Linked DNA regions of Homo sapiens. The protein of the gene in region 2 interacts with the protein of the main gene of each other region in a pairwise test. Each region holds a gene or a part of one and is shown on either strand. Other genes may lie near its edges. The genes, in order: DNMBP and ARHGAP17.

The links.
Region 1: the proteins of ARHGAP17 (region 2) and DNMBP interact in a two-hybrid assay, tested with the Homo sapiens proteins (one study listed by BioGRID and IntAct).

The regions. Positions count from the first base shown.
Region 1 is NC_000010.11:100,002,287-100,018,575, reverse strand, and holds the start of DNMBP (dynamin-binding protein), read left to right. Parts: upstream 1-8,628; 5' UTR 8,629-8,738; intron 8,739-8,992; exon of another isoform or gene 8,993-12,339; intron 12,340-15,552; exon of another isoform or gene 15,553-15,634; intron 15,635-16,289. UniProt on the Homo sapiens protein: Plays a critical role as a guanine nucleotide exchange factor (GEF) for CDC42 in several intracellular processes associated with the actin and microtubule cytoskeleton.
Region 2 is NC_000016.10:25,006,978-25,023,346, forward strand, and holds the start of ARHGAP17 (rho GTPase-activating protein 17), read right to left. Parts: upstream 8,393-16,369; 5' UTR 8,285-8,392; coding exon 8,232-8,284; intron 7,902-8,231; exon of another isoform or gene 7,699-7,901; intron 7,652-7,698; exon of another isoform or gene 6,936-7,651; coding exon of another isoform or gene 6,886-6,935; intron 1-6,885. UniProt on the Homo sapiens protein: Rho GTPase-activating protein involved in the maintenance of tight junction by regulating the activity of CDC42, thereby playing a central role in apical polarity of epithelial cells.

The DNA.
Region 1 (16,289 bases), on a different chromosome or scaffold from region 2:
TTGGCTATTATCTATTTCTTGCCTGATTTCTTGGAAGATCAAATAAATAGCTTAGTTTTGGCTTGGTGGAAACTTCAGTATGAGTAACTCCATTTTGGTTTTATCTGTTAAGCCTAGTGCAAGAGCTCAGTTCCACCCAATGGCCTCCTATAAATTTCATTTAACACAGTTTAGCAACAAACTATTGATTCTTGAGCATGAATCTCAATAGCACAAACTGGATTACGTGCCTATCTCTAAAACTATCACAGTGACTCTGATTGGTCAGTCTGGGGTCATATGATCACTTCTGGGTGCTGGAATGGAAATATGGGGGACTGCGAGTATAGATGAGTTGTTTCCCATTAAAACAAACAAACAAAAAATCCCTGGGAGATCAAGACAGGCAGATCACTTGAGGCCAGGAATTCGAGACCAGCTTGGCCAACATAAAACCCCGTCTCTACTAAAAATAGAAAAGTTAGCCGGGCATGGTGGCACATGCCTGCAATCCCAGCTACTTGGGAGGCTGAGGCAGGAGAATTGCTTGACCGTGGGAGGCAGAGGTTGCAGTGAGTGGAGATCATGCCACTGCACTCCAGCCTGGGCAACAGAGCGAGACTCCATCTCAAAAAGAAAAAAAACAGGAATGATGGTTGTGGACAAAACAACAAAAGAGCATTATAATTTTGTTGAATTTAAGCATCATTTTGATTTTACTGTGACTTTTTTCTGTTTTATTTATCTTTCATTGACATATAATTGTACATATTTATGGGGTACAATATATGTATACATTGTATAATTAGCAAATCAGAGTAATTAGCAAATCCATCATCTCAAATATTTATTACTTCTTTGTGGTGAAAACATTCAGAATGCTCTCTTTTAGTTAATTTGTTTTTATTGATTCTTATTTTTTATTTTTAAATGGAATTTCGCTCTTGTTGCCCAGGTTGGAGTGCAATGGCATGATCTTAGCTCACTGCAACCTCCGCCTCCTGGGTTCAAGCAATTCTCCTGCCTCAGCCTCCCAAGCAGCTGGGATTACAGGCATGCGCCACCACACCCGGCTAATTTTTTTGTATTTAGTAGAGACAGGTTTTCACCATGTTGGTCAGGCTGGTCTAGATCTCCCGATCTCAGGTGATCCACCCACCTCGGCCTTCCAAAGTGCTGGGATTACAGGCGTGCCCCACCATGCCTGGCCCTTATTTTATTTTATTTTTTCTGGAGATGGAATCTTACTCTGTTGCCCAGGCTGGAGTGCAGTGGCACGATCTCGGTTCACTGCAACCTCCGCCTCCCAGGTTCAAGCTATTCTCCTGCCTCAGCCTCCTGAGTAGCTGGGATTACAGGTGTGCAACACCATGCCCAAGTATATTTTGTATTTTTAGTAGAGACGGGGTTTCACCATGTTGGTCAGGCTGGTCTCAAACTCCTGACCTCAGGTGATCCCCCTACTTCGGCAAAGAAAGTCACCCCTTGGATCCATGTTCACCCCGCAGGAGCGGGGAGAAAAGGCATCTTTGACTTCCTTTTAGATTGTCCCATGTGAGCCCTTTGGGATGAAGTCCATCCCGGCACTAGATCAAAGGAATTGAGTGAGTTTCCTTAAATCCTTTCTGGAATCAGAGGAAGAATAAATAAATGAAGAAATAAAGTGACCACAATTTTGTTCTTTTTAAAAATACTCAAATATAGTATTTGAAACACACTGTAGTTTATAGAAGGCTTTTATTTTACAAGCCAATGATTTTTTTTTAATGTCAGACATTGGTACATTACTAATGTTGTAGCAAGGTTTGAGGGAGATACATCTCACACATCAGCCTTCCAAGTAGCTGGGATTACAGCCACACACCACCATGCCCGGCTAAGTTTTGTATTTTTAGTAGAGACAGGGTTTCAGCATGTTGGCCAGGCTGGTCTTGAACTCTTGGCCTCAAGCGATCCACCCCACCTCAGCCTCCCAGAGTGCTGGGATTACAGGTGTGAGACATTGCGTCCAGCCATGGTTTTTACTTCTGAGTGTGAAATAATTCTCTGTTTTCCCGTAAACCAATTCAAGCTTCTGCAAGTAGATAGGAAGAGGAGTCCCTAGGCATCAATATATCAATATATTAAGAACAGCCCTGAAGATAAACATGATACAGTCTTTTCTTCAGAATACAGAAGCTTTCTTATAGGGTCTGTTCTCTTCTAGGAAGAACAAAACAAGACCTGGTCTTACTCTTGCCAACCAGGGTCTATCCCTAAATGAAACCAAATGGCCTCTGTTGTCTTCTAGGAGTTGGCCTTGTCCTAGTTCAAGTCCACCAGACAGATGCCCTCTGTGAAAACTATCCTGACTTGGCCGGGTGTGGTGGCTCCGCCTGTAATCCCAGCACTTTGGGAGGCCGAGGCAAGTGGATCACCTGAGGTGAGGTCAGGAGTTCGAGAACAGCCTGGCCAACGAGGTGAATCCCCATCTCTACTAAAAATAGAAAAATTAAACGGTTGTGGTGGTGGGCGCCTGTAATCCCAGATACTTGGGAGGCTTAGGCAGGAGAATTGCTTGAACTCGGGAGGCGGAGGTTGCAGTGAGCCGAGATCCCGCCATTGCACTCCAGCCTGGGCAACAAGAGTGAAACTCCGTCTCAAAAAAAAAAAGAAAAGAAAACCATGCTGACTTCTCCTTTGCCTGTGAGATCTGATCACCAATCTTCCTCTGTCGATCTCTTTTCAACTTGAATTCTCACCGTTCTGAACCTTGGCCATGAGACTGCCAGGTGCATTGTGTCAACATTTTGATGAATAGTTGTTAGTATTTTCATGTGATGTCTGACATTTTAGGATGCAAACCTATGTCTTCCATGTTCTATCACTAGGTTGTTGGATCACATTTTCTTTTATAATAGAAATAAGCATATATTAACAGTATTTTATCTATACATCCCCTCCTCCCCACCACCCTGGAATTTGGTCCCCTGGCTATTCCAGGATGGACGGTTAGCTGACATAGCATGAGCAAGGCCAGCTTTGATTAGTTTCAGCAGCTCACTACTCTCATCTGCTTGCCATTGCAAACAACAGCTTATGGCTGTGACATGGTGCATTGTGGGGGGAAGCCAGAGGGAGTTGCCTTTGATATGGGGCCAAGTCATGCCAAACTGTTAGTTCATGGTGCAGCCCCTCATAACCGTGATAGTACTTACGGTATATCAAAGGATGACACACCCAAATAGTTTTAATCAATTAGATGAATCAAAATATGAATTGAGCCATTCTGTGTTTTGGTTTATTGAGGATTATTCAAGGGGAAAAACAATGTACTTTTTAGTTTTAATATGACATATACAGATATAATCCTTATTGTTAACAAGGCAGTTCCACACACATTTATCTCGTTTGGTTATTTTCATTTCAGTCCCTTCATTTGGGGATATTTTAATCACGTCTCAATACATCAACTTATCACAAAAATCAATCTCTTTACCATGGCTCACCAAACCAGAAATGACCTACATACTGTTTGTTAGATAGTTATTATTTGGCCGTGTGCGGTGGCTCATGCTTGTAATCCCAGCACTTTGGGAGGCCGAGGAGGGTGGATCACCTGAGGTCAGGAGTTCAAGACCAGTCTGACCAACATGATGCAACCCCATCTCTACTAAAAATACAAAAATTAACCGGTTGTGGTGGCGCATGCCTGTAGTCCCAGCTACTTGGGAGGCTGAGGCAGGAAAATCAGTTGAACCTGGGAGGCAGAGGTTGCAGTGAACCAAGATTGCACGCACTACTGCACTCCGGCCTGGGCGACAGAGCGAGACTGCATCTCAAAAAAAAAAAAAGAAAAAAAAAGATAGTTATTATTATTATTATTAAGAGACAGGGTCTTGCTATGTTGCCCAGGCTGGAGTGCAGTGGCTATTCACAGGCACAATCATAATGTGCTGCAATCTTGAACTTCTGGGCTCAAGTGAGCCTCTCACCTCACCCTCCAAAGTAGCTGGGATTACAGATGCGTGACACTGCACCTGGCCCTGTTTGTTTTCTAATCTGATCTCATAAAACTGCCTCCTTTGTTCACATGGCTTATTTTGTGTTTCCGAAACGTACTAGATGGCTTTCTACTTCAAGATTTTGCACCTGCAGTTTCTCCTGCCTGAAGAGCTCTTTACATGGCTGATTCTTTCTCTCTTTTTTTGAGATGGGGTTTCACTCTGTCACACAGGCTGGAGTGCAGTGGTGCCATCATGGCTCACTGCAGATCGTGGGACTACAGGCTTGAGCCACCATGTCCGGCTTGATTCTTTCTCATTATTCAAGTTTCAGGTAAATGTTACATCCCCAGAGGGGATTTCCCCAACTATCTCTATATTCAGAGAAGGTTCCCATCCCTCACTTTGGCCTTTATCAGCCTAGATTCCTTATCTAAACCACATGACATAGAAGCTGTGTGGAGTGAATTGTCCTCTTAGTTCTTTCAAGGACTGAGTATGACTTGAACTGTTCTGGTTGCTGTTGGGGTCAGGTGAACTTCCTCTTCGCCCTCTGAAGTTTTGCTGAAAAATCAGGTCACAAAAGGCAGATTAATTGGCATATGCATCTGTTTGACAATAGTTTTATGTGACACGGAAGACCAACCCCCCAATGGGGTGCAGAAGCTTATGTACCATCTTGAGGCTACAGAAAAAATGGTGACTTGGATGCTGGCAAAACAGGTTATGGGAGGGTGAAGAAGAGGAATTCTATTGAGGGCAATAAATGATTACTAGGGAGAATTCAATGAACTTGAGGAACTTCCAATGGTCTGGGACAAAGTCTGTTGGGCCTGCAGACCAGACAGTGGTTTGTGACAAAAGTCTGTCCAGGTTTATTGACAGACTTTGGTCTTCTTTCTTGCAATGTGGGTTCAGTTAATTAAAACTCAGGAAAGAGATCAGAGATAATTGTTTTTCTTTGGTAGGTCAGGACTTTGGACAGATAAGGAAACTTCAGAGAATACTATGCTTTGGGAGAGACAGTGAAGAGGGGCAGGTGGGAGGAGGTTGAGAGAGACCTTGAGACTGCTTTTTCAGCTCAACATGTACAAAGCACCCTATTTTAGGGTATTGGTTTCTAAGCCCCAACATTGCATAGGAGAGAAGTTAACTCATTACATACAACAAATGCCTAGGGCACTAGGCTTTAATTCTCTGTGATCTAATCTATCGCATCAGTTGGTTTGTTTCCTTCATAACACTCAACTACACCCCATGATTGTCTGGATTATCATTTGTTTATTTCTTTATTGTCTGTTACCCTACTCTAGAATGTGAGCTCCATGAAGGCAAGGATCTTGTCTGTGTTGGTCAGCCTGAATGCCAAACACCTAGCACAATGCCTGTTACATCACAAATGTACAGTAAGAATTCATTGATAAATGAAAAGTATAAAACCACCTTTGCAAAATTTTAACTGAGGAACTTATGAAGTGAAAGAAAGCAGACCTAACTGACCCCATCTTGCTTCTAACCTTTAAGTTGTCCTCGTTCATTCCTGGGCATAGGCTGAACTAACTTTGGGAAAGAATTCAGTTCATGACTCTGAAACAAAATTGATAATAGCCCTTTGCCAAAAAGACCCCCTTCTTGCCTAGGGACCAGTCTGCCTTTGCAGGACTAACAAATTAGCTACAAGATTAGAAATTACAGTTTAAGGCCGGGAGTGGTGGCTCACACCTGTAATCCCAGAACTTTGGGAGACTGAGGTGGATGGATCACTTGAGGCCAGGAGTTTGAGACCAGCCTGGCCAACAATGTGAAACCTCATCTCTACTAAAAATACAAAAATTAGCTGGACGTGGTGGTGCATGCTTGTAATTTCAGCTACTAGGGAGGCTGAGGCACGAGAATCGCTTCAACTCGGGAGGTGGAGGTTGCAGTGAGCTGAGATTGCACCCCTGCACTCCAGCCTGGGCGGTAGACTAAGACTCCGTCTCAAAAAAAAAAAAAAAAAAAAAAATTACAGTTTAGGGGTCATGCAGCCTCTGACTCCAAGAGCCTGAACCTCCCAAATTGCTCCTGGAATAACATCACTATTTCAAAACCTAAGATCAGTATTTGAGATATTTTGCAGACCCTGCAGTTGATGGATCTGCTGACACCATCCAGACCGGTAATCTGGCTCAACCAGTTCTGCATTGCACCCAGGAGCAGAAAACAGCAAGAAAACCTCATTTTGACCCCCTATGTTTCCATCTCCAACCTGACCAATCAGCACTCCCCACTTCTCAAGACCCCACCAGCCAAATTATCTTTAAAAACTCCACAAGGTCAGGAGATGGAGACAATCCTGGCTAACACGGTGATAGTCCGTTTCTACTACAAAAATACAAAAAAAAAATTAGCCAGGCGTGGTGGCGGGCGCCTGCAGTACCAGCTACTCGGGAGGCTGAGGCAGGAGAATGGCGGGAACCCAGAAGGCGGAGCTTGCAATGAGCCGAGATCACGCCGCTGCACTCAAGCCTGGGAGACGGAGCGAGACTCCGTCTCAAAAAAACAAACAAACAAAAAACTCCGATCCCCAGGCTGGGCGCAGTGGTTCATGCCTGTAATCCCAGTACTTTGGGAGGCCGAGGAGGGTGGATCACCTGAGGTCAGGAGTTCAAGCCCAGCCTGACCAACGTGGCGAAAAAAATAAATAAAACGAAATGCTTGATTTTTCATCTGAATTTCATATGGCATACTTGACTCCAAACAACTTTAGAAAGCTACATCCACAGAAAACAAAATTGTAGGAAACTGAATAATAAGTTATTTTTATTTTGGCTAATAACATTATCCAAAAATAAAGACAATAGATTTGCAATGTTAATTACTTTCTTGAGGAAAGAAAAGTCACTTGTTTTAAAATATTTATTTATTTATTTATTTATTTATTTATTTGAGACGGAGTCTCGCTGTGTCACCACGCTGGAGTGCAGTGGCGCGATCTCAGCTCACTGCAACCTCTACCTCCCGGGTTCAAGCGATTCTCCTGCCTCAGCCTCCCGAGTAGCTGGGACTACAGGCACCCACCACCATGACCAGCTAATTTTTTATTTTTAGTAGAGACAGGGTTTCACCATGTTGACCAGGATGGTCTCGTTCTCTTGACCTCGTGATCCGCCGAAAAGTCACAGTTTTACAGGCAAATGAAGCATTGCTAAGAATTTTAAAGACTCTCCGAACGTTGATATTTTACTACAAAATGTTCTCTTTACAGTGTTAACATGCTTCAAAAAGCAAAGGAAAAAAAAACAGTATGGTGGCTTCTCAAAAAATTAAACACAGAATTACCACATGATCCAGCAATTCTTCTGGATATATACCCAAAAGAATTGAAAGTAGGGACTCAGATATTTGTACACCCATGTTCATTGCAGCATTATTCACCATAGCCTAAAGGTACAAACAACCCAAATGTCCACAGAAAGATGGGATAAACCAAAGATGTTATATACGTACAATTGAGTATTATTCAGCCTTCAAAAGGAAGGATATTCTAACGCATGCTACAACATGGGTGAGCCTTGAAGACATTATGCTAGGTGAAAGAAGCCACTCACAAAAGGACAATATTGTATGATCCCACTTATATGAGGTATCCAGAGTAATCATAGAGACAGAAAGTAGAATGATGGTTACCAGGGGCTGGAGAATGAGGAGTTAGTGTTTAATGGGTACAGTTTCAGTTTGGGAAGATGAAAAAGTTCTGGAGCTGGATGGTGGTGATGGTTGCAGAACAATGTCAATGTACTTAATGCCACTGAACTGTACACTTAAAAAGGATTAAAATGGTAAATTTCATGTGATATATATTTAACCACAAGTTTTTAAAAAGCAAAGGGAAGGAGAAACATATACAGCATGGGATGAGATTTGTGAAATATTTATTTTTGTTGTGCATGCACAGTCATAGACTCGCCGCCTTCTTCAGAATCCTCTAGGTAGATTCCAGAAACGTGAGGCGCAGCAATTCCAGCAACATAGCCAAGCTGTGTAACTTCGTGGTCTTTAAACAAACAACGGGAATACTGCGGGGATTCAGAAACTGAGTCGGAGGAGGAGTTCTGACAGCCCTGCCCAGTTCTTGCTTCTGTCATTTCTTGCTCTCAAATTCTCAAAGATGTCCTGAGAGACTTTCCTCAGAAAAAAATGGGACAGATAGAGGCGAACCCCAGCGAGTATTGTGTGGCATAATAAGGGAAACTGCCTCGGGGTAGCAAAGAGGACAGCATCACACGCAGACAGGAATCGACTTGGACTTCTCTGAATGGAATTTTGACTTTTTTCTAGGTTGGAGGGTGGTGTCGGGAGTGGGGGAACAGCAAGAGTGGAGGAACTTGTCCGCAGCCGGGGCTGCACGTAGGACTGCGTGAGGCCGAGGCCCGACGAGCCGTGTCGGCGCGCTGCGGCGGGGGCGGGCCCCCGTGCCTCAGTTTCCCCGGTGGCCGTTCTGGGAGCGACGCCCCTCTGACGTCGCGAGGCGAGCAGGGCCGGGCCGGCCGCCAGGGGGCGCGAGCGCGGGGCGGGCGCCGGAGAGGTGGGCGCGCGGGCAGCGGAGCTTGGCGCCCCCGGGGCCGCGCGGACCGCGCCGGCAGAGGCGGAAGCCTGAGCGGGAGGCGGGGCGGCGCGCTGACTCACACGGGATCGACCCGCCCGCCGCTTCCAGGGGCGGAGGTGACAGCGGGCTGGGGACTGGCGGCTGCAACTGCCTGCCGCGCCGAGGGACCGCCGGGCGGCGGAAAGCAGGTCAGAGGCCGGGCCAGGCCGGAGCCGGGCGGGGGCCGGGCGGGGAGCGGGGGTCGCGGTCCGGGGCCGCGGGCGGAGGGGACCCGCACCCCGAGAGACGCGCCGCGCCGCGCCGCGCGGCTAGGCCTGTATCGGCCCTTTCCCAGCGGCGGCGCTGTGCTGCGCTCTGTGGGCCAGGAGCCCGCGAGGGACAGTGGGGCGCAGCGGGCCCCCTCGCACTCCTGTAGTCCCCGGGAGTTGGAGGGGTGGTCAGAGCAATGCGAACGTGGGCTTTTCAAGCGGTGTCAAGCCCAGGGCTCTTTCTCTGCACCGCCCTGCCACTCCGGCAATGAGGCGGAATTTTGAGAGCTGGAAAAAGAATTCTGCGTTAGTCCACCCCGCTGATTTTACAGATGTTCGGAGCCTTACGGCATAGGAGGCCGTGATTCTGTGTCAGGGAGACAGGGACAGATGGCTTCCGAAGCAAGGGTTAGACCTGTTCAGCTGGAGATGCAGCTTTGGTCATGGTGGAGTTTTGCAGAAACCCGCGGACACCCGCGTTCCTGCTGCAGGCACAGATGTCCACCGGGCATCTGTGTCTCAAAGGGTGGTGATGCTGTCACTTTAGTAAAGGAATATTGAGGTTACCAAACAGGCCGGGGCCTGATGCAGATGAGGAGTATAGACTTAAATTTTAAGTGCAAAAACAACTTTAAATGCAGTCTCATTATTACTGCCTGTCTCATTTGTACTGTAATGAAGGGTGAATATTTTTGGCACTCACTTATTCTGGAATATGGGTAACTTGCCTTTAGGTCTGTTTTATAGTAATTCTTTTACACAAACATGAAGATCTTGTATTAAAACACTTTCATAACTAATGATGCTGTAGTATGTGGCAGGCGAGTGGTAACGCTAATATTTAGGGTTTGAGCATAGTCTAGCTCTGCTTGTTTACATAGCTGAGTTAAACGGATGAGCAGGACTGATTAATCTGTAGTAGTTTTTGCAAGACTGAAGTACCTGACAGCATTCGGGGATCATTTCTCAGTTGGTGTTCCGTTTATTACTTTCACAGCATGAATACCGACACGGTGATCAGCAAGTTAGTTTATCCTCTACCCATTTTTCTCTAAAATATTGAATTAAAGGATCTCTAAGGTCCTCTTCTGTCTCGAGTTCTCCGATTTTACATGTTAACTTGAAACACGTCACTCATTGTGATAATAAAAATGTTTTAAGAAGAAAAGATTTTTAGAATTCTGCATAATGGGGCATAGCGAATCTTCAAATTCATTATTCTCAGCTCTCTCAGTCACTTTATCAGGGTTGGGCTAAAATAAGTGAAAAGTGACTTTTCAAATTGCAGATACTTACGTGTTAAATTCACTTAAATTCAGAGGCTGCAATGGAGTGATTTCTGGAGGGTGGAGAGTAGCTCAAGTCTGGCTTGGGAACGGGGTTCGTGCAGTGCACTGATAACTTTTGCAATAAGCCAAGAACAGTCTGACTCAGAGAATGTGATAAATTGACTTTTATACAGTGTTCATATTGTGTATTTTTTGGCTGAGATAATAATAATCTTCATAAACGATCTGTTTAAATATGCACCAGTTATTTATTTGTCTTGCAGCCCCAAGGCAGGGCATTTCCCTCAACGTTCCATCAATCTCTTCCTCTTTTCTGGCTCCTGACTTCAGGTGATCCGCCTGCCTCAGCCTCCCAAAATGCTGGGATTACAGGCGTGAGCCACCGAGCCTGGCTTTTGGCTTATTTTCTAGGTTTAGTATTCTGTTGTTTCTAGAGTCAGCTAATGGATTACCTACAACATGGTATTATTACGAGATTATCTCCTGTGAAATTCTCGAATGTGCTTGATCATCTGCCAAAGCATCCTTAGAATTCATTCAGAATACTTCTGGAAAGTTTTGCAACACCAATTCAATTAATATGAAATAGTTTCTTATTATACACACTCTGGAAAACATCTGAATAAGCTAATTTTCAAGATTGGTTAACTTAGTCTTGTTGGTCAGGAGTTAATTATGAGTTATTAGTTTCTTGCCTGGAAAGGCAGAAAGTTCTTAAGTAGCAGCAGTAAAATGAGCTCTTTAATGAAAGAGCCGTTAAACCAAGATGTTAACTTTTAGTTGTGTTCTTTATCCTCCCTGCTATGAAAGGCAGCTGTGGGAGGTGAAATAGAGTAGCTAAAATGTATTATTTCATTTTTAGATTTCTAGATCTTTTCTTCTGACTGAAGGACGTGACCACCAAGAATTGAACCAGCACTTGAGGGCAGGCACATAGGGCATTGTGTGAGGAGTCTGAAGGCATGGCTTTTGGTCCTTACTTGTTTATTCACTGAACACATTCTCACTGAGCACCTGTGTGTGCTGAGAGGGTGGGCACCTGTGTGTGCCGGGAGGAGGAACACCTGTATGTGCTTGTGGGGGGCACCTGTGTGTGCCGGGGTCGTGGTAGCACTTGTGTATGCTGTGGGTGCTGGGAGGGGGAACCAGTTTGAACAAAACAGACTAAGCCCTCGTGGAACAGACACATTCTAATTGGGTGGAAACAGACAAATATGTGAATGAATAGGTCAAAGGATCATAATGCTGTGGAGAACTTTAGAGTCAGGAAAGGGTAAGAGTGTGTGTGTGTGTATGTATATGTGTGGTAGGGGATTTACTTTTTATATAGAGGGGTCAAATAAAGCCTCTACTGAGATAACTTTTTTTTTTTTGGAGACAGAGTCTTGCTCTGTCACCCAGGCTGGAGTGCAGTGGCGTGATCACAGCTCACTGTAGCCTCAACCTCCTGGGCTCAAGTGATCCTCCCATCTCAGCCTCCCGAGTAAGCTGGGACTGCAGGCTTATATCACCACGCTGGGCCAATGTTTGTATTTTTAGTAGACGCGGGGTTTCACTATGTCGCTCAGGCTGGTCTGGAACTCCTGGCCTCAAGCGATCCACCCACCTTGGCCTCCCAAAGTGCTGGGATTACAGGCATGGGCCACCACACCTGGCCTAACTCATGGTGGGAGACTGGAAGGAAATGAGGAAGTGAGCAGGAGGCAGTGGGATGAGCATGTTCCAAACCCTGGTGCAGGAGCATGCTTGGCATGTTAGGGGTGGCAAGGTCATGGTGGCCAGTCAGTGTGGATGTGGGTTGGGGGGAGGTGGCAGCAGATGAGAGGGGGTGGGAGTGGGGAGGACACATCAGTGTAGGTCATTGTAAGGATTTTGGCCTTTACACTGAGTGAGGGGGAAGCCGTTGGAGAGCTTTGAACAGTGAAGTTGATGATGACTTATGTTTTAAAAGGATAACTGGCTGCTGGGTTGAGAATAGACAGGAAGAGGACAAGGGCTGAGTCAGGGAGACCTTTTCAAGCTAGAGCTGTGTGACTCACACCATAATTCTTCCCTGAGTCTTCGTTTCCTCATCTGTAAAATAACTGGGCCCTCTCTAGCTCAAGAATTTTAAGTTTTCAAGTAGTGCAGGGTATTATTTCTACAGGGAGGCAAGAGGATTGCGTGGGAAGAGGTTCTGAAAGTAAATCGCTTCAGATGACCTGAAAACTTGACACCAACCTGCCTGTAGCTGAATCATCCCAAATCAAGAGGTAATCAGGTCTTTTTCAGTCAGATTGTCAGGTCATGAGAACAAAAACACTGTTTCGTAAATATTCTCTGCTCATCCCTTTTGTACTTTGCTGATCCCTGAATTTTCCCTTCCTGATTGAAAAAGGATGAAAAGCTGTTACTCATCAACAGAACTGGCAACCAGAGTAGCTTTTGTTGTTTGGAAAATTGGGAACTTTGGGGAAGGAAACAATTCTGTGTTTATCGTAGGTCATAAGAGTTTTTCTTTTATAACACGCAAGGAATCTAAAAGATTGGTTTTGTTGTAGAATTCCCTTGTCCCATTCATCTCATGTCTCACAGGTGTTCATTCTTAATGCATTGCATGTGCTTCCTTTTGTTTATGTAGGAGCTTGCAAAGTGGGAATGTTTGTTTTATGTGTATGTATCTTGATTTATAATGCTGTAATTCATTTTCCTTTATGTAGTTTGGTTTTTTTTTTTTTTTTTTTTGGAGACTTTTGAGACAAGAGTCTCACTCTGTTGCCCAGGCTGGAGTACAGTGGCGAGATCTCGGCTCACTGCAGCCTCCGCCTCCCGGGTTCAAGCCATTTCCTGCCTCAGCCTCTTGAGTAGCTGGAATTACAGTCATGCGCCACCACGCCCAGCTAATTTTTTTGTATTTTAGTAGAGACGGGGTTTCACCATGTTGGCCAGGCTGGTCTCGAACTCCTGACCTCAGGTGATCCGCCTGCCTTGGCCTCCCAAAGTACTGGGATTACAGGTATGAACCACCATGCCAGGTCTCTGAGTAGTGTTTTTAAGATCCATCCATATTGTTATGTGTCTAATTCTCTGCTTTGGAATGCTGCATTTATACCCCATGCTGTTTGCATCCATTGGTTTTGCTTTATCTGCTCTCTGTGTAGTGAGTGGTTACTCAAGTTGTTCCTACCCCCTAACACCATAAATATTGCTGCAGTGAACATCTTCCTACATGTCTCCTTACAAAGCTGTATAATATTTCTGTGGAATTGCTGGATTATAGGCTTGCAGAGACTGAATTTGATTAAATAGTGCCAGATGCCTCTCCACAGTGGCTGCCCCAGTCTCTGTGCCTCTGGAAGTATTAATATTTGAGGACTCCTGTATCCTCATGTCCCACCAGCACTCGCCTCTTTCCAGCTATCCATGGTTTTCAATCTCGTAAGCACAAAGTGATATCTTGTCGTTTTAATTTATATTTCTTTGATGACTAGAGATTTTGAGTATCTCTTATACAGATAGCTTCCTCTGTAAATTGCTTATTCATGTCTTTGGCATTTTCTGTTGGAGTTGATATCTATTTTGTTGCTGTTGACTTGCAGAAATGATTTTATAATATAGGTATTTATTCCCTGTTATGTTTAGACTTTGCAGATGTCTTCTCATTTGGGCATCTTGACATCTGTTGATCAAATCTTCTCATTTAGTTCTCGTTTTGTCTTTGCCATCCTTTGATCAAGAAATATTTTTAATTTTGATGTAATCAAATAGATAAATTCTTTGACTTGCGGTTTATGTTTTTGGAGTTTTGTTTAAGGAACTCTTCCTGAACCCTAGGTCATGTCTGTGACTTTCATCTCTCTAGGGCCCGCATTTTCATGTGTTAGATAGGAATCCAGCCCTATTTTTCTCCATTTAATGACCCAGTTTTTCTAATAACATGTCAACAAAATCCATGCTTTCCTCTATGAAATTATGGTATCTCTTTCTCATTTGTGGTTTCCATGGATACACTTGTCTGGCCCTAAGCATTTATTTTGTTCCATTAGTCTGTCAGTTCTTACTTCATTTTTTTAATTGCTCTAATTTTATTACAGTGACTTTGTAGTATGTCCTAATGACTGGCACAGCAAGCCATTCATCTTAAAGTTTATTTAGCTCTTCCTGGACCAAAATTTATTTTTTCCATATAAAATTTGGAATAAGTTTACCAGGCTACCCAAACATTATATATACATATATATTTATATATATATATTTTTTCTTTTGAGACCTTGTGTCACTCTGTTACCCAGGCTGGAGTGCAGTGGCACCATCACGGCTCACTGCAGCCTCAACCTCCCAGGCTCAAGTGATCCTCCCATTCTAGCCTCCCAAGTAGCTGAGACCACAGGCATGTGCCACCATCCCTGGCTAATTTTTCTTTTTTTTTTTTGTAATTTTTTTAGAGATAGGGACGCCCTTTGTTGTCCAGGCCGGTCTTGAACTCCCGGGCTCCAGCAATCTTCCTGCCTTGGCCTCCCAAAGTGCTTGGATTACAGGCATGAGCCACTGTGCCTGGCCAAAAAATTATATTTTTGAGGAATTTTTATTGGAGTTTATTGAGTTTATAAATTATTTGAGGAGGGTTAACATCTTATTTTATTTATTTATTTATTTTTTATGTGCCATGTTGCTTTTTTATTTTTTATTTTTCTTTTTAAGACAGGGTCTCCCTCTGTTGCCCAGGCTGGAGTACAGTGGTGCGATGATAGCTCACTGCAGCCACCACACCCAGCTAAATATTTTTATAAGTTTTTTGTTGTTGTTGTTGTTGTTTTAATAGAGATGAGGTCTCACTCTGTTGCCCTGGCTGGGCCCTGGCCAGTAACTCCTGGCCTCAAATGGTCTTCCCACCTCAAAGTGTGCTGGGATTACAAGTGTGAGCCACTGAAATAGTAACTCATTCCATCCAAGAGCATATAATGTGTCTTTCCGTTTATTCAGCTCATTTTTCTGACATTTTTATAATTTTGGAAATAATTTAAAGCTAACAGAAGAGTGCTAAGAGTATGTTTTCTTTGTGTGCTTTTTCCCCTGACCCCTTTAATTGTAGACATCATGTCCCTTTAATCTCTAAATACATGCTTCATCAGTTCTTTTTGTTTGTTTGTTTGTTTTTCTTTTGGAATGGAGTCTCGCTCTGTCGCCCAGGCTGGAGTGCAGTGGCTCGATCTCTGCTCACTGTAACCTCCGCCTCCCAGGTTCAAGCAATTCTCCTGCCTCAGCCTCCTGAGTAGCTGGGGCTACCGGTGTGTGCCACCACGCCTGGCTAATTTTTTTGTATTTTTGGTAAAGATGGGGTTTTACCATGATAGCCAGGATGGTCTCAATGTGACCTTGTGATCCACGTGCCTTGGCCTCCCAAAGTGCTGGGATTACAGGCCTGAGCCACCGTGCCCAGCCCTTTCCCATTCTTATACTTCTTATTCATTTTTCTTTCCTTACAGCATTGGCCAGGACTACTAGAACTGTGTCAAAACAGCTGCTACACTAACGGGCATCTTTGTCTTGTTCTCAGTCTTAAAAAGAGTGAGTCTAAAGATTTCCTATTTCATATAATGTTTGTTTTAGGTTTTGTATGTTACCTTTATCAAGTTTTAAGGTATTACCCTCAATCCTAGTTTACTGAGAGTTTTCATCATAAATAGGTATTAAGCCTTACCAAGTACTTTTTCAGGATCTGTCCTTGAGGAAATAAGATGGCATCAGGAAGGCTGTATACCAAAATCCTAACCCTATGCTGACTTTGTTTCAAGCAGAAGATATTTATTAACCCTACATATATAATTTGTGGAAAGCATCTCAAGATTCCAATACAAGTTTATTTCACCATTAGGTCAGCTTTTTCCTCCTGGCATTACGAGTCAGAATTTAAATAGCTGATGTGAAAAATGAGAGAAAGAGCCATACTCAGGATGATAAGTTTTGTTGTCAGCATGATTGTAAATATAAGATATGTAAAATTATAGTTTCCTTACTCTGTGGATCGGTCTTTACTTCAGGCATAAATCTTACTAAATTATATCTCAAGAAATATTGAGGTGGCTCGTCAGTAGAGCCATAGATAGCTGTTTAGCAGCACTAACTGCTAGGGTGTTGGGCAGTGAATTCTCATGGCCAGCTCTTCTCTCTCTTTCTTTTTCTTTCTTTTTAGACTAGCCATTTTTTTTCCTAATTGTGAAAT
Region 2 (16,369 bases):
GGAGATCGAGGACATTTCTCTGTCGCAATATAACAGTGAATACCCAATGTTACTTCAGATCACTATGGCCCTGGAAAGGAATGAACATTACAATCTAACCTCTTTTAACTCCTACTTTTTAAAAAGAGGGCTCCTATTTTTGAAGTGGGGCTTTCAGTCCCTTTTCCAAGATAAATAAGTTTAAAGTTTCAAATTTACAGATGAAAATTTCCTAATGGCTAGAAAATAAGGCAATGCTAAAATAAAGTGCTTATCAACTTCTTTAGATTTTTATTATGAAATATTTTATGTGCAAAGAACATATAGTGTGTATGTAAAGCATAATGAATAACAATAAAGCAAATGCACCCATCCATATCTCAAGAAAGTAGTTCATTACGAATGCCACTGACAAATTACTTATTTAGAGACAGGGTCTCACTCCATCACCCAGGCTGGAGCACGGTGGCAGGATCACAGTTCACTGCAGCCTCGACCTCCCAGGCTCAAGCGATCCTCCCACCTGAGCCTCCCAAGTAGCTGGGGACTACATGCACATGCTACCATGCCTGGCTAAACTTTTTGCGTGTGTAGAGACAGGATCTTGCTATGTTGCTCAGGCTGGTCTCAAACTCCTGGTCTCAAGTGATCCTCCCACCTCAGCCTCCCAAAATGCTGAGATTACAAGCATGGGCCACTGCACCCGGCTCACTGACAACTTTTCATACCACAAGCATTAGTCTCTAAACTACAAATGAAAGCAGGCAGCCCACAGCCAGATAATGCTTTCAGATGTTTTCTTTGGCCAACAGTGGGTTTTTTTCTTTTTAGTTGCCAACATTTAAATATCAAGAAACTTCACATGAAAATCAGCATTCTGGAGTATCATCAAAAATGGAAGATGTAGCTTCACTACTCCCACGTTCACCATGGCAACAAGTGGCTAGAACTGAAGAGCAGCTCTCCCCTTTGAATGAACATGTATTCACCAGTTCACTGCAGTCCCCACATTCCCTACTGTCCTATACCCGCCTCCCATTTCACTTATTTATTTTACCCAACCTGGCACTTCGGTTTGTGACCCCTGCTTATGTGATTGTGGTTTCCAACCTTTGGGAATATGGGAAATATTATTTACAGTAAAAAAATTTAACAGACTCTCAATAGGTATATAACTAAAAGTAAGACAAGTCCACAATCCCTATCACCATTTTGTAATCCAAAAAGTTCTAAAAAACAAATCTTTTTTTGTAACTTATTTGGCAATAAAAGTTGACCTGAACTGATATTAAACTATGCATAATCTTCATGCATATCCATTCAGTGGGAATATATGTATATATATTTTGCTATACTAATGTTTGATTATGGGATTTTGTCCCAGACCCCACTGGAAGTATTACATAACAACAATATATGCATATTATTACTTTTAGAAAAATCTGAAAAATTCTGAATTCTAAAACTTATCTGGCCCAATGATTCCAGATAAGGGACTGTGGGCCTATTACACTTTTAATCCCTACCTTTAAGAAAATACAAACACAGCGAACAGATGAGAGTTTAACATTTTTACATGGATTTGTACTTCACTAGTTACTACAGCATCTACCTACACTTGAGAAACTGAAATAGAATGATAAAGGTGAAACATCCTGTGGTCTGACAAAAATGCACGGTGCACGTACTGACTGCAGCGCCCTAGGCCATAATCAAACTTGGAAGGTTTTGCCTCGTCCACTCTGCTACAAAGGCAATTCCATAATAGCGTAACATGCCGCTTACACATATAAAAATGATGCTAAATGAACATATCCTTTTATGGTTCAAATTTACAGATGAAAATTTTCTACTGGTTCATCATTTTTATGGTTTTAGAGTTCATTTCTTCCCCCCAGTAAAGAATGGATTTTCACTCAACTATAAATACTTCTGGATTTCTTAACATGTAAACTACATAATAAGGCCATAAAAGATGAGATTGAGAAGCTGCTGCAACGACAAGAGGACCTCTTTCCACCCTGCTCTATGGAGAGGTTGATGGAATCCACTCAGATTGAAGCAAAGCACACATTACCTATCCCTTCTCAGAAATACTGTTCAGAGTTCCCCTAGAAAAGGCAGAGTGGGCAGGCGTGGTGGCTCACGCCTGTAACCCCAGCACTTTGGGAGGCCAAGGTGGGTGGATCACCTGAGGTCAGGGGTTCAAGACCAGCCTGGCCAACATGGCAAAACTCCATCTCTACTAAAAAATACAAAAATTAGCCAGGCTTGGTGGCTCATGCCTGTAAGCCCAGCTACTCGGGAGGCTGAGGAAGGAGAATCGCTTGAACCCAGGAGGTGGAGGTTGCAGTGAGTCGAGATTGTACCACTGCACTCCAGTCTGGGCGGCAGAGCGAGACTCCGTCAAAAAAAAAAAAAAAAGGGTGGGGGGAAGGAAAGGTAGAGTGAAGATCAGTGGGAGGAAAAGGACACAGTGGAGTGGGTGAGGGATGCAGAATGTTACTGCTGGCAACGTAAGGATAAGGTTTGTGATCATCAAATACAGGCAGGGCTGACTCAGGGAAGAGAGATGAGATTCATTCAATTCGGCAGCAGGGGACTGTTCTGGGATCAGTAGGTAGAGACACATTTTGACTCAGTGTGAGAATTCACATTGCTGGTAGTGGATCCAACTACCTAGTGAGTGGTCCATTCTACATACCTCCTAGGAGTGGAAGACTCCTAGAGGTCATTAGATCTCTGTGATCAGAATTTATAGCTGCTGCAGAATCAGAAACCTGGGTTTGGGTCCACGGCTCTGTCTCTTGCGAGCTTGATGACCTCTTTGATCTCTGGCTTCCTCATCATTAAATCAGAAATAAGTAACATCACCTCAGAGGGTGGCTATGAGAATGCAATGAAATAAAAGTATGCAAAGCACCAAGCCCAGCAGCTTCATAAGCACAGAAGATGTTTAATAAACATTAATAAACACTAATCCTTCCCTGGTGAAGAGGCAGCCCAGTTCCTGTACTCAAAAGCACTTGGGAACCACAGGAAGAGGCCCTGGACCCAAGCCATGCCTCAGCCACTACTCAGTAACTGTGCAAACTTAGAAAGTCAGGTTTCTTCCTCTTTTTTTTCTTTTTTTTTTTGAGACAGGGTCTTGCTCTGTCACCCAGACTGGAGTGCAGTGGCATGATCTCAGCTCACTGCAGCCTCGACTTTCCAGGCTCAGTTGATCCTCCCACCTCAGCCTCCCAAGCAGCTGAGACAGGCAAACACCACCACTCCTGGCTAGTTTTCTGTATTTTTTGTAAAGACCGGGTTTCACCATGTTGCTCAGGCTGGTCTGAAATTCCTGGGTTCAAGTGATCCTCCTACCTCGGGCTCTCAAAGTGTCAGGATTACAGGCGTGAGCCACCCCACCCCACCCAGCCAGGTTTCCATCTTTGTCAGAGAGAAGTTATCATTGTCAGGAGACGAAATCCAAGCCAGGTGGTTTAGTACAGCACTTTGTAAACTAAACCACCATAGAAATGTTATAGACTGTTACTATCAGACCTTTTCAAGATTTTAGTAAAGAAAGGATGAGCTGTTTTTCAACAAATCCAAAGAACTGAAAACATCAGGGTAAGGTACAGGGGAATAAATGAAAAAGAGGGACTGTCAATTTCTGAGTCCTTCTAGACAAGCAGTTGGGTGATCCACAGAAATATTTTGTTCAGCTGCATATAGTGTCCCCGTAGTTTAATTTGGATTAAACGCCAGCTAGTTAAAATGCAGATTTCAGGAAAACTCCACAGGTGGTCCACACTGGGCCTACATTACCACAGCAGCCCCTTTGGTGGGACACAGTCCTCCAGGTCCCCTGAGGCCTTCACATGGCCCAAAGCACTGATTCATTTTACTGGCCTCGCCCTCTAGGCATTTGGGTTTACAACCTTGGGTTCTCAAAAAACAACTATCTGTGAAAGCATTCAGACCTCCAAGGGAAACTTCAGTCAGGGAAGAAATCAACACCCAAGGAGACACTCCCTATCAGAGCCTCAGTACTATGCTCTCCTAGTTGTCTCTCAAATTTTTTTTCTCCTTGATACTTCTGTAACTTCAAGGTCTTCATCCCAGTGTACTCCTTCCTCTACTCAAGACATCATCTCCCCAAAAACACCATTGGTGATGATCTGCATCTAAGGGTTTTCAAGAAACAAAACATCTCTCTTTTTAGCAGGGCTACAAAAGACACACCATGACCTTTATTTCTTGCCTGATTACCACCCATTACCATCCACTCTCAGTCCATATGGTTTGGGTGCGCTGACTCCAGTCCATTTCTGGGGAAAGGCATGTGACCCAGAAGCATTCAGAGCCAATCCTGGGACTCGGGCCACAGTGACTGCGAGATGAGTATTCTTTCCCTCTGAGACTTGGAAGATGTGGAAGTCTCCCAGTGGACACAGTGCCTACCTAAAGAGTGGAACCGAGGCCAGGCGCAGTGGCTCATGCCTGTAATCCCAGCACTTTGGGAGGCCAAGGTGGGCAGATCATCTGAGGGCAGGAGTTTGAGACCAGCCTGGCCAACATGGCAAAACCACATCTCTACTGAAAATACAAAAATCAGTCGGGCATGGTGGTACAGGCCTGTAGTCCCAGCTACTTGGGAGGCTGAGACGGGAGAATTGCTTGAACCTAGGAGGTGGAGGCTGCAGTGAGCCGCGCCACTACACTCCAACCTGGGTGACAGAGCCAGACTCCGTCTCAAAAAAAAAAAAAAAGAGTGGAACCCCCAGAAGAAGCCAAATCTGCAGCCACACTACTTATTAGAGGCTCTTTTGGTCACTTATGAGCCAATCAATTCCCGTCTTTGCTATGAACTGGGTTTTCTTACAACCAAAAGAGACCTAATCAATACAAGAGATATTTGAAATAAGGGCTTGAAAATGAAGGCAGAGAAAGGTGCTCAGATTTTCTCCTCTGGGAAGCTTTTGTTACCTCCCTCAATCCAATGACAGCTGGGTTTTGCTCTGTGCATTAGCCATCCCTCTTAAGCACTTATCTCATGTATATAATTATTTTTTGCCTGCCTACCTCTTCCACGTATCTCCTGAGCTCCCTCAGGGCAGAAACCATGCCCGTATTCACCTTTGATTCTTTAATACCCTGGATAACAGGACACAGTGTAGGCTCAACAAGTGTCTGTTGAATGCATGAATCAACAAAAGGCAGGTGGACTAAAAGAACCATCCTACTTCTCTTCTTTGGGACACTCACACCATGAGACCACCTCATAAGCCTTGCCCCTGTGAGTTTCAGGCCGTCTTCTCAAATAGACTTACCCACCCATCGTAAACAAACTGCATCATGCGAACTCATTCCTTCCAGGCATTACTAATTCTCTACAAGTCCCTCCCCTGGAACCTTACAGTGAAAGTACTCAAAGGTCTCCCTTCTGAGGAGAATATCTCACTGCAAGACACCACCTAGAATTCCACAAATTGATAAACCAAAACACGATGGGCATGACATTCACATATATAACTTCCTTCTCCACCTAGATCGCAGGGGCGAAAACAAAAAAACCCTTTGCTTTGTAGCCTTCATCTTGACCTAAAAACACCCAGAATCCTGATTCTGGGGCCAACCAACCACCTACTTCCAAGCAGTAACAATTCTAGGCACTCTCCAGCCTCCGTTTATCTTCCTTAGTCCTTTCTGATTACTTAAGCAGAAAACACATACACACACACATCTAGGAAATCAACAGCAAGGAAGCAACAGGTTTCCCAGTTAAAAACAGATGTTCTGACTTTGGGTGCATAATTGCCACACCCTTAATAGTTCTGTAATAGCTTCAGCTTCCACTGGCATCTAGCAATAAAGATTTTTAAAGACAGTCAAAGGTCAGGCCCAGAATTACAGCTCCAGCATGAATCACCATCTACTCTATCCACTTCATGTTTTCCCATACTCGGGCCCACACCACCAAGGCGATCTAGTAAGAACTCAAATACCAGAATTAACAATGTCTACTGCACCCTGGCCATGGGGTAGGAACCACAGCAGACCCTGGGAATCAAAGGAGACACAGCAAGGACTCTCAAGGTATTTATCTGATGGAGAACACACACAAGAGGCAGTCACAGCACAGAAAAGCAAGTGCTACACAGGATTACAAGAACGCCCAGGAGAGGCATCCAATCTATGCTGTAGCATCATAGAAGGCCTTTCAGAGGCAGAGGGACCTTTCCCAGAAGGCTGAAGAATGAGCAAGAGGTGCCTGGAGAAAAGGTGTGGTGGGAGAGGCTTCCAGGAGTTCCAAGTAGATGCTAGCAGGTAAGAAAGCAAGACCTCCTGTGGAAACTGAAGGTAGGCAAGCATGGCCGGAATTTTAAAATGTGAAGGTGCCAGGCAAGGTGGCTCACGCTTGTAGTCCCAGAACTTTGGGAGGCCAAGGCAGGCAGATCAGTTGAGGCCAGGAGTTCGAGACCACCCTAGGCAACATGGCAAATCCCCACTCTACAAAAAATACAAAAATTAGCGGATGTGGTGGTGCCCACCTGTAGTTCCAACCACATAGGTGGCTGAGGCGAGAGGGTCGCTTGAGCCCAGGGAAGTCAAGGCTGCAATGAGACAAGATCGCACCACTGCACCCCAGCTTGGGTGACAAAGGGAGACCCTGTCTCAAAAAAAAAAAAAAGTGTGAAGGGAGAAGCCTCTAAGATGACCCAGGAGTCAAAGAGACCCTAAATAGCTTGGTAGATTTAAGTCTCAGAACTTTGTATAAAAAGAGTGAAAGTCCCTTACCTGTCACGAACAATGTAAAAACAAGCCAAACGACTATTTGACAAATGTATCTTGGCACTTACTAAATACTAGTTCCACAATGCACGTTGCTCAGAACACTAACAAGGGTACGAAACTCACAAGAAATTATCATGTGCTTGTAAACTGTTCCTTGAAACATCAGCCGCCATTACCACACGTCTACCTTCCTCTCAGCATTATTTCTTTAATTTTCCTGCAAATAACAGAAAAGTAGGTTTGTCTGGGCTTTAGGGGCAGCGATTAACCCTGAAAATAAGAGTTAATTCTCACCACAATAATACGGTAGGGAATCGAAAAAATTAAACAAGGAAACTAAGCAAAAAGATGGAGGAAATGAAACAGTAAAAAGCAAATTTAGAAAACTCGAGAGGAAGTAAAAGTATTTTCATACACTCAAAAAAAAGAAGTGTCCCACGTGCTTCAGCCAAACCAAACTCCCCTTAACTGTTAAAAACAGAAAATCAAAAGAAGAGCTGTGAGAAATTCATACTTTCGTATCTCTTTGCTGAATAAACACTAAATCGGTACAGTACAGCCAGCTGCCCTGAAAGACCTTGAAATATTAGCCCCAGATAATACAGCACATGACAGTCACCTCCAGAAACTCTCAAAAACCACAAATCATTTCTTGTTCTGACAACCTGATCTACCAACTCTGGTCTAGCCTGCCATTTAATAATCAATAACGTTTCTTGTTAAGCACTTCAACCGTAGCAAAGGAAGATAAAGAAGCATTTGTTTCCAAACCTAAGGTGAGACTTTTTAAATTGGCGCAAGGCGTCTCCATAATCCTTTTCCGCCAATTCCTAATTTCTAAATGTCAAGAACTGGCAGCAGCAGTCCAGTTCCTAGGAGCCCTGGTTTTGAGACAGCACCACCTCCGAATTCCCTCAAAGGGCGTTCTGAACTCACTGAGCAAATCCGGCTGGCTTTCATGTCCCTCTAGCCATTTCTTGCCGCCATGCACTTACAGGAGAAGGACTCGCAAACAGCGGGAGCACCGGGAAAGCCTGGGACTGCCGCCCCCCACAGCACAGCGCTCGGCACAGCGTTAGGGACAGAAGTCACCGTTGTTGAGCCCAGGGCAGCGATCCCAGCTGGCTCGGCCCCCGGGAAGGGAGGAGAAGGACCGGGTCTACTCCCCGAGGGCGATGCTCCCGGGGCAGGGACAATGGGCAGGGGACCCCGCGGTGTGGCGGAGGAGGCGGCGGCCCTCCCCTGCAGGTCTCGGGAGCCCGGCGGCGCTGAGAGACAGGCGGGCCGCCTGGAGCGCGGCGCTCGGGCCTCAGCGCGGCGCAGCCCCCGGGCCCGTGCCCCGCTGGTCTCGGGCAGGGGCTGCGGCCCAGCTCAGAGCCGCCGGACCGCGGAGGAGCCGTCCCGCCCCCGCGCCCTCCGCCCTCCGCCCCCAGCCCCGGTGCGACCCCCGTGCTGCCCGGCGCACTCGCCTGCCCACGGTCTGGTTAGCCAGCTGCTTCATGCGGTTGAACTGCTTCTTCATGGCGGCGGTGGCGGCGGCGGCCCGCGGGGCTCGGGCCGGGCAGGGCGGGGGACAGCCTGGCAGCTACTACATCGCTTCCCGGCCCAAACGGCGGCGCGGCGGTGGCTCCCCGGGCCGGCGGCCCCGCCCTCGCCTCGTCACTTCCAGTGGCACCGCCCGCCCGCCCTCTAGGTCTGGCCGAGCCGAGCTGAGCCCGAGTAGAGCCGAGTCGAACCGAGCCGAGGCTAACAGTGCCTTACCTGACACGGGCGAAGAGCTAGAAGGCCCCGGGCGAGAAGACCACTAGGCCTCCTCCGCCTGGCCTCCCCGACCCCAACGCTGCCCGGTCACCCTCTCGTTTATTTCAACGTATGAAAAGCTGTTTCTAGCAGGGCGCAGTGGTTCAACGTTGTAATCTCAGCACTTTGGGAGGCCGAGGGGGCAGATCACTTGAGCTCGGGAGTTCGAGAGCAGCCTGGCCAACACGGTGAAATCCTGTCTCTACTAACAATACAAATTTAGCTGGGCGTGGTGGTGGACGCCTGTAATCCCAGCTACTCAGGAGGCTGAAGCAGGAGAACGGCTTTTACCCGAAAGGCAGAGGTTGCAGTGAGCCGAGATGGCGCCACTGCACTCCAGCCTGGGCAACAGAGTGAGAGACCCTGTCTCGAAAAAAAAAAAAAAAAAAAAAATTAAAGTCAATGTGTGTTTTCCTTAACACACGTGCTCACACACTCATGTCTTCCTGGTTTGGTGGCCTTGGCTCCAGGTAAGCCCCTTCTTTGCATTGGATGGGCAGCAATGTGGCTTCTTTCATCAGCCACATCTCAAATGTGCTCCTAAATGTCATAGAAAAAGGAAAGAGCTCCCTAACTATGGGATAAAGGAGACTGATGCCAGTTTGGAATTCTTAATATCAAAGAATGAGGGACTTCAAGATCTTTTTAGTGACCTAGGAGAGACCTAGGAAGCATCAGAGCTTCAGATAGGGCAGCAAACTAAAAGTTATCGACATCAATTACAACAGAAAGAGGTAGAAATGAGCCTTCCTAAAACAAGAAAGCAAGCACTACAGGATCGGTTGCAGGACCGGCAGCCAGCCCTGGAGTCAGCACATTCAGGGAAGGCCGGAGGTTCCCATCCACACTGCATCCCCTCCATTCCATGTGGTACCCATCATGCTTCAGTGTTCCACGACGCTTACATGGGTTTTTATGACATAATTTCATCATAACAAGAAATAAACAGATAGTCCAATGAAGTTCTAAAACTTGAGTCTCCAGTTGGCCATTGGAAATGTATTGCTCAGACTTATAAAATAGGAGGAACAACTAGTTTTGATGAAAATGAAATCTACAAACTACAAACACCAAATATTAATATCATCAAGGAGCTCAAACAAAAAAGAAGTCAGGATACTGATGACCATCAGCTTGAATTATCAGTATTACAGAATGTTCATCAACAGAAATTGAGGGAAATAAGTTGTAAGCATCAAGAAAATCTAAGCAATTAGGAAGAAAAGATTGAAGAACTGGAAAATTTGTTACAGCAAGGTGGCTCAGGAATTACAGTACATGATCTCTCTAAACTTCAAGAGAAGGAAAACACTATTCATGCAAGCTCTACAAATTGAAAAAGTAGAGTCTACCAAAAAATTGAAGAATTTGAACATAGAGTAAAAGACAAATAAAAAATTATCTTCTGGGGCCAGGTGCAGTGGCTCACACCTGTAATCCTAGCACTTTGGGAGGTCAAGATGGGAAGATCACTTGAGCTCAGGAGTATGAGACTAGCCTGGACAACATACTAAAACCTCATCTCTATGAAAAATTTAAAAAAAAAAAAAAGGCCAGAAGCAGTGGCATGCACCTGTACTCCCAACTAGTTGAAAGGCTGAGGCAACAGGATCATTTGAGCCCAGGAATTTGAGGCTGCAGTGAGCTATTATCACACCATTGCACTCTTGTCTGGGTGACAGAGTGAGACCCCTAGCTGAAAAGAGGCTATTGGAAGAAACAACTCTGAGAAAACCATGAAAAGATTGTCCACTGAAGCTAACCTGGAGAGCTCTGCCTTACAGCTAGAGCAAGAGTGTGTAATTAAACTCAGCCACGAGAAAGACTCTGAAATGTCAGCACTCAAAAAGAATATTGAGGCTGGGTGCAATGCATCACACCTGTAATCCCAGCACTTTGGGAGGTCGAGGTAGGTGGATCACCTGAGGTCAGGAGTTCAAGACCAGCCTGGCCAACATGGTGAAACCCAGTCTCTACTAAAAATACAAAAATTAGTCAGGCGTGGTGGCGGGCGCCTGTAATCCCAGCTGCTGGGGAAGCTGAGACGAGACAATCGCTTGAACCTTGGAGGCAGAGGTTGCAGTGAGCTGAGATCTGGCCTCTGCAGGGTGGTCCAGCCTAGGTGACAGGGTGGTCCAGTCAAGGTGACAGAGACAACGTGACAAGGTTACTGTCTCAAAAAAAAAAAAAGAATATTAAACAGATGGACACTGACCATAAAGAAACTAAAGAAAAAGTGCTCCTAAATTTACTCCAAGAGATTGAAGAGCTAAGAAAATCGCTGCAGGAAAAAGATGCAACCATTAGATCCCTCCAAGAAGACAATCAGAGACTGATTTGATTTTGTCATCTAGTTGAGAAGAGCAGAAGCAATTGACACAACTTATAAGAGAGAAAGCAATTTTTTTAAAAAAAAACTTAAAGGAAGTTCAGAGCTTCCAGAGGAATTATTATACTAAAACCTTAAGAAAGAAAGAAAGAAATTTCATAGCAAACCATAGAGGAAAAAGACAGATGTCTTGCATCCATGAAAGAAAAAAAAATCTGATAGAAGAATTGAAATGACTCAGAGGACAACAAAGTCTAACTGCCCCTGTGGCTGAGCCTAGAATGGTAGATACTATTATGGTACTAGAATTGGAGATATTTCAAATGAAAATAATCAAAGGTAATCTTGAGGAGGGAATAAAGTATCATCAAAATATATTTGAAGGTTGGGCATGGTGACTCATGCCTATAATCCCAGCACTTTGGGAGGCCAAAATCACTTGAGGCCAGGAGTTCAAGAAATCACTTGAACTTTGGGAGGCCAAAATCACTTGAGGCCAGGAGTTCAAGACCGGCCTGGCCAACATGGTGAAACCCTGTCTCTACTAAAAATAAAATTAGCCAGGTGCGGTGGAAGTGCCTGTAGTCCCAGCTACTCTGGAGGCTGAGGCAGGAGAATCGCTTGAACCCAGGAGGTAGAGGTTGCAGTGAGCCAAGATCGCACCACTGTACTCCAGCCTGGGCAACAGAAGAAGAATCCGTCAAAAAAAACAAAAACAAAAACAAAAAAGACTGAAGAGGCCAGGCACAGCGGCTCACGTCTGTAATCCCAGCACTTTGGGAGGCCGAGGTGAGTAGATCATCTGGGGTCAGGAGTTTGAGACCAGCCTGGCCAACATGGCAAAACCTTGTCTCCACTAAAAATACAAAAATTAGCCGGGTGTGGTGGTGGGTGCCTGTAATCCCAGCTACTCAAGAGGCTGAGGCAGGAGAATTGTTTGAACCCAGGAGGCACAGGTTGCAGTGAGCCAGGATTGTGCCACTACACTCCAGCCTGGCCGACAGAGCAAGATTCTGTCTCAAAAATAAATAAATAAATAACCATAATTGAAGAGCAAACACAGAGTAAGATGCAACTGCTTCAGTCTTTAAAAGAGGAGAAAAAAGTAGGAAATGGATGATTTTTAAAACCAGCACAAGCAAATGAGTATCACATACACCCAGCTCTTTTCAGTAAAAGGTGAAGAAATTAGGAATTTGCAAAACACAATAGGAAAAGAATCAAAACCCAGCTGCATGAAACAGGACAAGACATTAAAAGACTCTGAGCCATTTTTCAAGCAACAGAAGTTGAATGTCCCAATATAGAAAGCAGAAGTGAAACGCATAGTTTATTTAAATCTGAAACTGAAAGATTAGTGAAAGGAATGAAAGAGCAAGAATTGGAGATTAATCCTGAATCAAGGACCAGAGGGGGAAAGAAAGAATTGGAGAATAAATTTATAAGTAAAAATAATATGACTTTAAACAGATGGATCAGCTGTCCATCAATGGGGTTGGTCAGGAAGATACAGAGGTGCAGGGCCTTCAGGCTAGAACAGCTTCAGCCTCTGACACCCAGGGCGTTGCTCACCTTCAGCAGCAACTGCAAGCACCTGCTTTGGACAGAGAACAAATACAGGCTGTTTGGAATAAGGCAGCTCAAGAAAATAGCTGTCTCAAAAAGGAAGATCACCAAACAATGGATATTATTGCTGGTAATGAAACAGGCCCCCATAAGCTGCAAGAGGAAAATAAAAAACTGTCCACTAGTAATGGTCAGGAGAAATTTAAAGACACTTTTCAGAAGTCATCATGTCTCATTCTAGAAAAAGACATTGAAACAGATGCATTAAGTCAGGAATGTCAAACTTTAGTGACAATTTTGCAAGCATCCAGCACTGGTCATGAGATTGGAGGTGTTAATGGTAATCCGTTTGAGGAGCTTCCACAAGGACCTAATAAATTAAAACAGCCAGTTAAGAAAATGGAAGTGTGGGCCGGGCGTGGTAGCTCATGCCTGTAATCCCAGCCCTTTGGGAGGCCGAGGCGGGCGGATCACCTGAGGTCAGGAGTTTGAGACCAGCCTGGCCAATATGGCAAAACCCCATCTCTACTAAAAATACAAAAAAAAATTAGCCGGGCGTGGTGGCGGGTGCCTGGGAGGCTGAGGCAGGAGAATTGCTTGAACCTGGGAGGCGGAGGTTGCAGTGAGCTGAGATCGCACTATTGCACTCAAGCCTGGGCGACAAAAGTGAAACTCCATCTCAAAAAGAAAGAGAGAGAGAGAGAGAGAGAGAAAGAAAGACAGAGACAGACAGAAATAAAGAAAGGAAGGAAGGACGGAAGGAAGGAAGGAAGGAAGGAAGGAAGGAAGGAAGGAAGAAAGAAAGAAAAAAATGGAAAGAGCAGCTGGCGACCACAGTGGGTGCAGCATGGGGCAGCCCAACTCCAAGAAGAACTTTGTCACCTTCAAGCAAAGCTTTTAACTGACAGTGATAATGATTTTAAACTCCAGATGAACTGTAGTGACCTGATGCAAAAAAACGAAGGGAATGAAACTCAACTCAAAAACCTGGGGCAGGAGTTAGCACACACGCAGCACAGCATCAGACAGCTCTGTCACGGCAAGGACAGTTTCTTCCCACAGCTGGATATTTTACCCCAGCTCCCCAGAGAAGCACTTTCTTCACATGCCGCAGAATCTCCTCACGCAAGTGAGTCTGCTCTGTCGAGTGAGTCTTCTAAATTGCTCCAAGATATTGAAGAGCTAAGAAAATCACTGCAGGAAAAAGATGCAACCATTAGATCCCTCCAAGGAGACAATCAGAGACTGTCTGATTCCACTGCTGCCATCTCAGAGCTAGAAAGAAAAGAACATATATAAATGCATTCAGAAATTCAGCAGCTGAAGGAGAAACAAAATGTCTTAGACAGGTTACTTAGGGGAAAAAACCTTTTCATCAAAGCCAAAAGTAGTAAATTACATTCTTAGAGAGAAAATCTCACTAATAAATGAATAAAAATGAGCTTTTGAGGCAGGCAGTCAGAAACCTGAAGGAGAGAATATCAATTTTAGAAATGCATATGGGTAAACTAAAACAGGACAATGAAAAAGTAGTAGAAACATCCAGGGGGGAAAAAAAACAGGCCAGGTGCAGTGGCTCACGCCTGTAATCCCAGCACTTTGGGAGGTCAAGGCGGGTGGATCATGAGGTCAGGAGTTCAAGACCAGCCTGGCCAAGATGGTGAAACGCCCATCTCTATGAAAAATACAAAAATTAGCCAAGCGTGGTGGGAGGCACCTGTAGTCCCAGCTACTCAGGAGGCTGAGGCAGGAGAACCACTTGAACCTGGGGCGGGGGGGCGGAGGTTCCAGTGAGCTGAGATCGTGCCACTGCACTCCAGCCTGGATGACAGAGTGAGAAGACTCCGTCTCAAAATATATATATATATATATACGCGTATATATATATATATATATATATATATACACGCGTATATATATATATATGCGTATATATATATATATATGCGTATATATATATATATATATATATATATACACACGTATATATATATGTATATATCAGCCATTACAAGAGATTAATATGCCAGGTGTGGTGGCTCATGCCTATAATACTAGCACTTTGGGAGGCTGAGGCAGGCAGGTCACACTTGAGCCCAGATGTTCAAGACCAGCCTAGGCAACATAGGAAGACCTTGTCTCTCTATACAAAATTTAAAAAATTAGCTGGGCATGGTAGCATGCGTCTGTAGCCCCAGCTGCTTTGGAAGTGAGGAGGCAGAATCGCTTAAGCCCAGGAGTTCAAGACTGCAGTGAGCTATGATGACGACAATATATTCCAGCCTGGATGACAGCGCGAGACTCTGTTTCAAAAAACAAACAAAAAAAAAGTTACAGTATTGGAGGTAAATCTAGTTTCTTCTGCAAATCAAATGAAAAATGCAAGCCAGGAAGCAAGGTTGCAGGTGAAATCATTAAATGAAAAACTGAATATGGGCCAGGTGCATTGACTCACACCTGTAATCCCAGCACTTTGGGAGGCTGAGGTGGGCGGATCACTTGAGGTCAGGATTTCCAGACCAGCCTGGCCAACATGCTGAAACCCCATCTCTACTTGAAAAAAAAAAAAAAATTATGTGGGCATGGTGGTGGGCGTCTGTAATCCCAGCTACTCAGGAGGCTGAGGTGGGAGAATCACTTGAGCCTGGGAGGCAGAGGTTGCAGTGAGCGGAGATCGTACCACTGCACTCCAGCCTGGGCAACAAAGCGAGACTTCGTCTCAAATAAATAAATAAAAATATACAACAAAGTTTAGGAAACACACCAGCTTTCATACCCAGAGGAACAGATGCCAATCCCTGTTCCTCTGCTGTGTCACTTATGAGGCTGACTGGACTAGGACCGGGTGGGTCAGGGCATGTTCTATAAAATGCTGCTGCAGAGGTTTTGCCCACATGTGCACCTCTGCTGACTTCACCTGGCCAGAGGGCAGGAGCTGGGCTGAAAGGCTGTCAAAGCAATGGATGATTCTCAGAGACTAGGAAAGATCAAGCCATGCTGTGTATCTACTTTATCATTAAGTAGCCTTTAGGAAATAGTCATTTATTTGTTCTCAGTTTTGCTCTCTTTAATTTTTTTTTTTTTTTTTTTTTTGAGACAGGGTCTTACTCTATCACCCAGGCTGGCATGCAGTGGCGAGATCTCAGCTCACTGCAACCTCCACCTCCCAGGGTCAAGCAATTCTCTCACCTCAGCCTCCTGAGTAGCTGGGATTACAGGCGCCCACCACCATGCCCAGCTAATTTTTGTACTTTTAGTAGAAATGAGGTTTTGCCATTTTGGCCAGGCTGGTCTCAAACACCTGGCCTCAAGTGATCCGCCCACCTTGGCCTCCCAAAGTGCTGGGATTACAGGTGTGAGCCATTGCACTCAGCTTCTTTAAATTTAATAAAAATATTCTTAATGATTTTAAGTGTCTTTGAAGGGCTGTAAAGGTATTCACCCAACTTTAAACTGTGATTACTTCTTGTGAAGGTGGGTATTGGTGACATTGGAGGTTGTGGTCAAAGGATACTTCAGGTAGGGTTTATAATGCTTTTATTTTTTTGCAAGAAACAGGTATTTGTGTATATGTTGGTTAATTAAAATATTAATTTGTGGCCAGGCACGATGGCTCACGCCTGTAATCCCAGCACCACTTCGGGAGGCTGAGGCAGAAGGATTCCTTGACCCTAGGAGTTCAAGACCAGCCTGGGCAACATAGTGAGATCTCGTCTCTACAAATAATAATTTAAAAAATTAGCTGTGCGTGGTGACATATGCCTGTAGTCCCAGCTACTCCAGAGGCTGAGGCAGAGGATCCCTTGAGTCCAGGAGGTCGAGGCTGCAGTGAGCTGTGATCATGCCACTGCACGCCAGCCTGGGCAACAGAGCAAGACCATGTCTCAAAAAAAAAAGAAAAAATATATATAT